Linked DNA regions of Homo sapiens. The protein of the gene in region 1 purifies or fractionates together with the protein of each later gene. This does not show direct contact. Each region holds a gene or a part of one and is shown in the gene's direction. Other genes may lie near its edges.

Region 1 (3,672 bases):
GGGTTCTTGGCTCCAGATTCTACTCAGCTTGCCCACCTACATGCCTGTATTAGTCTACTCTCATGCTGCTAATAAAGACATACCTGAGACTGGGTAATTTATAAAGGAAAGAGGTTTAATGGACTCACAGTTCCACATGGCTGGGGAGGCCTCACAATCATGGCAGAAGGCAAAGGAGAAGCAAAGGCATGTCTTACATGGCAGCAGGCAAGAGAGCTTGTATGGGGGAACTCCCATTTATATAACCATCAGATCTTGTAAGACTTTTTCACTATCACAAGAACAGTATGGCGGAAGCTGCCCCCATGATTCAATTATCTCCATTTGGCCCAAGGAGAGATTTGGGTGGGAACACAGCCAAACCATATCAGTGCCCTTTCCTGAGTGTCTGAATGGGCGGGAGGAAGACATGATGATGTCATAGGCAAAGGTGGGGAGAATGACCTCCACCCTGGGCTTGGCCTGGGACCAGGGACTGAGAGGGCCTACAGTATACTCCCATGGTCTTGAAAGGGGCTGCCAGATCCTATGAGCAGGTGGTGGTTCAGAGGCTGGTGGGAAAGCTCAGCTCCGTGGCTGGGAACCTGCCCTGAGGTTATGTGCCCATCTCTGAGCTGTACCCAGCTCCCTGCTGGGGAAGGTGGGTTAAGCAGCCAGCCCTGAGGAAAGAAGAACTCTGTGATGGTGGCCGATGGAACAGGGCCCCACAGGTTGGCCCTGGGCTGTTCCCTAGAATCCAAGAGCACAGGGGAAGCTCACGGAAGCCTTGCACACTTTCTGACACCAGCGTCTCCTCACCTGCAGGCTGAGACTTACTGACACTTTTCACCCTCTTGGCCCCACATGTGTGGCCCACTGGAGGGGAGCAATGGCTGGCAGAAAACCACCAGGTCTGGAGGTCAGGGGCTGGGTTCTGGCCTGGCCCTGCATCTGGCCAACACGTGATCTGGAACTGTTTTGTGGGCCTCGGTTTTCCTTCCAGAAGCAGAGAATCATTCTCTATTTCTGAGTGGGGCAAGGGGGCTCTGACCTCTCCCCTGGGGCTGCCTTTTCCCTTTATTTCCAAGCAGTATCACAAGGGCCCACCAAAGTGGCATCTGGAAGTATGTGTTTCCAACAAATCCAGTCTTTTTTTTTTCTTTTCCCCTTATTGGCTTACCATGATATGGTAGAAATTTATTCAGGCCTGCCTTTAAAATTCCCCTTGATTGAGTCTTTGGTGGATCTTACAAAGACTTTGGTGAGTTGCAGAGTCTCTCAGTATATCACCTGGATGGAGGTAGAGGGGCAGAGGGCCACGATGGGCAGGATTGGGCCTCTGGGAGAACAGAAGGGCCAAGGCAAAGCAGAAAGGAGCAGGGAGGTCCTCGGCAGGGGAGCCATCTGGAAGATGTCAACTTGCAGGCCCTGAGGTCTGCCCTGGGCTGAGTTCCTGGGTCTCCTACTGGAGAGATCAGCCAAAATACACCTCTGTTCCCCCAAGCACTCTTTGCTTTCTGCCTTCTCTCTGGTCTTGGAATTTTCAGTTCAATTGGGATCTTACAGGAAAACAATTCCAGGCCAATTCCTGACTTCCCACCCTAGAAGGGAATGTTGGAGCCCTTGGCCTGTGGTTCCCTCTCCCTCCTTCTTGGGAGCTGGTCCCGGGGGGAAATGGTGGGAAGTTCCATATTTGGATGGCCCAGAGTGCTGGAATGAGATGGAGATCTCCAGAGCAGGACAAGAGGGTCCTTATTTAGTCTGAAGTCTCCAACCTGGGGCTTAGGGTGAGAGAGGAGCTGGCAGAGGGATGGACCCTTTAAAGGCAAGAGGATGGCAGTTGCAAGGAAAGGAGCTGAGAGCTTCTCCGAGGGTGGTAAAAGGCGTGGCTTCTCCAGTGGTATCCCTCGGTTTCTATGTTCAGGACATGTTTGAGGATGCGTCCAACTGAGATGCTGAACTCCAATATTTAAGGAATATGATCAAACCGAATTAGGATTACAGGACAAGTAAAGAAAAAGAATGCAGTTGAATCTCTTGAGAGGAGTATGTGAAAGTTAGAAGCAATGATCTCTTGAAGCTGGGGCCTGTCCCTCCCACTTCCTTGTCTCCCGATGGTACTAACTTTATATAATACTAATAAGAGTAGCCAACATTTATTATGCATTTGTTGTATGCAGGGTATTATGCCAAGTACTTCACATGTCAGATCTCATTTGATTCTCACCACCAGCTTTTGGGGCAGACATTATTATGTTCATTTACAAATGAGGACACAGAGGCTGGAAAGGCAAAAAAAACTTGCAAATGGCTGGAAAGGGAGAGAGCTGGGATTTGATTCTGGGCAGTCTGACTCTTCATGACCCCAGGCTCTGAACTGCTTTAACTTTATTTTTATTTTTAAAAGTTTTATTTATTTATTTATTTTTAAATAAATAGAGACAGGGTTATGCCATCTTCCCCAGGCTGATCTCAAACTCCTGGGCTCAAGTAATCCTCCAGCCTTGGCTTCCCACTGCTGGAACTACAGGCATGAGCCACTGCACCCAGCCCAAACTGTTTTATTCTGGATAGCTGGGCATAGCTCCCCTCTGAGATTAACAGGACGAAATATGAGGCCCACAGCCTTTCCAGCTCAGACCATTGCAATCCCTAGTTCCTTCCGTTCCACTCTCTCTTACCCCAGGAGTCAGGAAGTTCTTCTGTGTCTGACCCTCACTTCTTCCTGTGGTAAAGTGATTTCTGAGATTAGAAACTTCAAATCCTCTTGTGATTAGCATGAGCTGCATCCCATTTCAAAGCCCACCATGTTGGGCACTTAATAAATGTTAAACATTTCTTATGGGGTATCACATCACCTGCATCTCCCCCCGTTGGCTCCCTGCCAACATGCACAGATAGTCTCTTCTGGATTCCACTGTTGAAGGCAGGAAAACTGCCCTTCTTTTCTTTTTCCTCCTCCCCCATTGGGACATATGGTCTCTGTTGAGGGCAGAGTGAGGAACCTCAACAGGCGTCCTGTGGCTTGGGGTCAGCCTAGGCTGTTGCCTCTGAACCCTGTGTTGCACTGCAGCCTGAGGAAGTTTAGGGGTGCAGAGGACCAAAGGAGACACATATGGATTCCTGGAAGAGGAATTGGTGTTGGCCAGCATTTCTAGAGTCGGATATGCAGATCCCATCCCTCTGTCCTCCCACCCATTGGCCATCCCGCCTGCCTCCATTTGTAGACAGTTCCTGAAAGATCAGGATATTATGTATGCAAAGAGGCCAGAGAGCTTCAGCTGTAAGAAGCTTGCAATGAGCAAGAAGGTCACCCCAGCTTCAACTCAATGCGTCCGCTTCCCCTTCCCCTCCACAGTGGTCTGCAAGAAGAATCTGGACAGTACCACTGTGGCCGTGCATGGTGAGGAGATTTACTGCAAGTCCTGCTACGGCAAGAAGTATGGGCCCAAAGGCTATGGCTACGGGCAGGGCGCAGGCACCCTCAGCACTGACAAGGGGGAGTCGCTGGGTATCAAGCACGAGGAGTGAGTAAAAGATCCCCTCCCAACCTTTTTCTTGAGCTCTCTCCCCCACCCTGTATTAGGCCTCATGTGTATTTACAACCATTTTTGGGTAAGCAATGGAAGGCTCAGAAAACCAGTTATTTAAAAGGCAGTCACAGAGCAGTGTCTATGTGTCAGGCTGCTGCAG
Region 2 (3,672 bases), on another chromosome or scaffold:
ACACACACACACATACATATATATACATATATATATACAGATACATATACATACATATATATATATATATACACACACACACACACACACACAGAAGCTGAATACAAGTCTGTGAAATTCTAAAGCCCATAACATTCATTTCATTAGGACTCTGGTGAAGTGGGAACCCACTCTTCCTGAGGAGATGCTCAGACTTTGTTCCTTAGGAAACATTGTTTGTATTTATTTAGGAGAGGGTGATGAGAAAGAAGACACAGTTTGGATTAAGTTCTCAATTTTGAGCTTTAAGCTGATAGGAGTTCAGTTGAAAGACGTAAAAACAAATGGAAGTCAGTTATATTTAAGCTAGTTATGGGGACCGTATGTACTTGACTGTTGGCTTCGTAATTTCAGAATTCAAATTTTAGCTGGTCCTCACAACCACATATATTTTCCATATACCAACGCATTCCTTCTCCCTCCACCACTCTGGTTTCTTTGAATGACCTAGTTTGTATTGTTTTAGGTCAGGGCACCATGCCTCTGCCAGTAGTTTAAGCTGATTTCGAGGCAGATAAAACGTCTGTAGTCCATAGCACATCTATTCATGATTTGACTGTAGAAAAGTTTGTTTAAATGTTTTGTGGTTGAGTCAGACCACTTCTGCCCACCAGGGTGTAGATAACTTGTATACACACATGCTGGTAACACACAATATACTTTTAACTGAAGTTCATGTTTCTTAAATTGTTTTATTTAATGTCACAGGAATATAAATCCTACATAGAGATCATGCCCGTTTTGCTCACTGTTGTACTTGGGGCACATTAAGGGTGTTTAATGATAATTGCGTGAATGGATATTTTGGCCAAAAAATGCACTTTAAAAATTAATGTCATTGTATTTATACTGCAAAACTCAGCCCTATGATAAATTTAACTTCTAATCGCTGTCTCCCTTCATTTGACAGTTAAAATAAAATATGGGCATATATGTATAGATGCACAGAATAGACTTATTCTGGTCTCTTTCATCCAGCCTCTTAAATCAGCTTACTTTGTACCTTTCAGGCAGAACCCTGATCTCTATAAATATCCTCTTCCCTATTTAGCAAACCCTGATAATCCTGTGATCCCATCCTCAGTAGTTGGATTAATATGATGCTGTATTATATTTGCACTTGTCTTCCCTAGACCATGCTTGAAATGCCATTTATCATTTTGCTGGAAGAAAACATTAGCTGAACTTTGCATTTCTCTGTAATTTCACTCAAAGGTGAAGTATCTGAAGTTATTATTTCCTAATAAGGAAAATTACTCATTAGAAATGTAGAAGCACTGTATTCTACACCATTAGGTTAATAAAGTTTATCTATAGTTAGAATTTTTTTTTTTTTTGAAACAGTCTAGCTCTGTGGCCCAGGCTGGAGTACACTGGTGTGATCTCGGCTCACTGCAACCTCCACCTCGCAGGTTCAAGCGATTCTCCTGCCTCAGCCTCCCAAGTAGCTGGGAATATAGGTGCCCACCACCATGCCTGGCCAATTTTTTGTATTTTTAGTAGAGGCAGGGTTTCACCATGTTGGCCAGGTTGGTCTCAAACTCCTGGCCTCAAATGATCCGCCAGCCTCAGCCTCCCGAAGTGCTGGGATTACAGGCATGAGCCACTGCACTCAGCCTTATAGTTAGAATGATTTCTTTTTCTTTCTTATCTGTGCTTTGCTCCTCTCCTTTTAAGGTGAATAAACATTATGTTTGTCTCTTTTTTTTTTTTTTTTTTTTTGAGACAGAGTCTTGCTCTGTCACCTAGCCCATAATGCAGTGGCCCGACCATAGTTCACTGCAGCCTCAAACTCTTGGGCTCAAGCCATCCTTCTGTCTCAGCCTCCTGAGTAGCTGGAACCGCAGGTGCACACCACCACACCTGGATAATTTTTTTTTTTTTTTTTTGGTAGGGATATGTGTCTCGTGTTTGTTGCCCAGGCTGATCTTGAATTCCTGGCCTTGAGCTATCCTCCTGCCTCAGCCTCCCAAAGCACTGGTATTACAGGTGTGAACCACTGTGCCTGGCCTTGTTTTTCTCTTAATTCTTTAATATCAAATGTAATGAGTGTGGAGCAAGTCTCTGCCTGAAAAAAAAAACAGTATTTTTAGTAACTTCTTTAAAAGAGACACATGAGGAAAAACCCAAAACATTAATTTTAAACTTTGAAAATATTTTATAGGCCGGGTGCAGTGGCTCACTCTTGTAATCCCAGCACTTTGGGAGGCCGTCACGGGCAGATTGCCTAAGGCCAGGAGTTTGAGACTAGCTTGGGCAACATAGTGAAACCCTGTCTCTACTAAAAATACACAAAATTAGCTGGGTGCGGTTGTACACATCTATAGTCCCAGCTACTCCGGAGGCTGAGGTGGAAGGATCACCTGAGCCTGGGAGGCTGAAGCTGTAGTGAACCATGATTTCACCACTGTACTCCAGCCTGGCATTAGGAGTGAGACCTTGTCTCAAAAAAAAAAAAAATATATATATATATATATATATAATATATGGTTTTATTTTTTGTTTTTGTTTTGAGATGGAGTTTCACTTTTGTTGTCCAGGCTGGAGTGCAGAGGCATGATCTTGGCTCACTGCAACCTCTACCTCCTGGGTTTAAGCAATTCTCCTGCCTCAGCTTCCCAAGTAGCTGGGATTACAGGCATGTGCCACCATACCCGGCTAATTTTGTATTTTTAGTAGATACGGGATTTCGCCATGTTGGCCAGGCTGGTCTCGAACTCCTGACCTCAAGTGATCCACCCACCTCGGCCTCCCAAAGTGCTGGAATTACAGGTGTGAGCCACCACACCCGGCCAAAAAAAATTTTTTTTAAAATAGGAAACAGATCTTCCTTCATAATTTCTGCACTAAGCAGAAAATGCATGAGAAGAACTTTGCCTGTGTCATTTAATGTACTAATTTGATAAATTCCAGATGTTTTATAATTTATTTTAAGAGGTAATGAGACCTCTTCTTTTCACTTACAATCAGGAACTCAGGATGAGTAGTAAAATGGGTTTTCCTCTTAGCCTTTTTATGTCACCAGTCCCCTAAGGATCTCAGAATTTTAATTTTTACTTTTCTGAAAGGTGATATTATAAATGAGTGATTGCAATATAGCTAATAGAAACCAGGGAGACTTCTTGTAAATATAGTTTTAAGAAGGAATGCTGTCAAAGTATTCAAGACCAGATGAGATAAAAACAGCAAAAAAAAAAATCTTGCCTTTGGGTGGATCGCTTGAGCTTAGGAGTTCAAGACCAGCCTGGGCAACATGGCAAAACCCCATCTCTACAAAAAATACAAAACTTAGTGGGGCGTGGTGGTGTGAGCCGGTAGTCCCAGCTACTGGAGAGGCTGAGGTGGGAGGATCGCTTGAGCCCAGGGAGTCGAAGCTGCAGTTAGCCGTGTTCACGCCACTACATTCCAGCCTAGGCCACAGAGGAAGACCCTGTCCCCCCAAAAAAAAGAAAAAGGAAAAAAAAGTCTGGCCTTTTAAAAAGCCAGACTTCTGTTTGTTTCCAATCTATTCAATCTCTGTCCCCCAAATCTTTTGGCATAGAATTTGTCTAGCTTAGACTAAACCTTCCATCTTACTGCTGGAAAAAATTGAGGCATAGAAAGGTTAATGTGGTCCTTAGCAAGTCAGTACAG

The links. The genes of interacting proteins can lie anywhere in the genome.
Region 2: the proteins of CSRP1 (region 1) and ARL3 fractionate together in Homo sapiens (co-fractionation; one large-scale study listed by BioGRID). This does not show direct contact.

What each region holds. Positions count from the first base shown.
Region 1 is NC_000001.11:201,490,010-201,493,681, reverse strand, and holds part of CSRP1 (cysteine and glycine-rich protein 1), read left to right. Parts: intron 1-3,337; coding exon 3,338-3,506; intron 3,507-3,672. UniProt on the Homo sapiens protein: Could play a role in neuronal development.
Region 2 is NC_000010.11:102,707,736-102,711,407, reverse strand, and holds part of ARL3 (ADP-ribosylation factor-like protein 3), read left to right. Parts: intron 1-3,672. UniProt on the Homo sapiens protein: Small GTP-binding protein which cycles between an inactive GDP-bound and an active GTP-bound form, and the rate of cycling is regulated by guanine nucleotide exchange factors (GEF) and GTPase-activating proteins (GAP).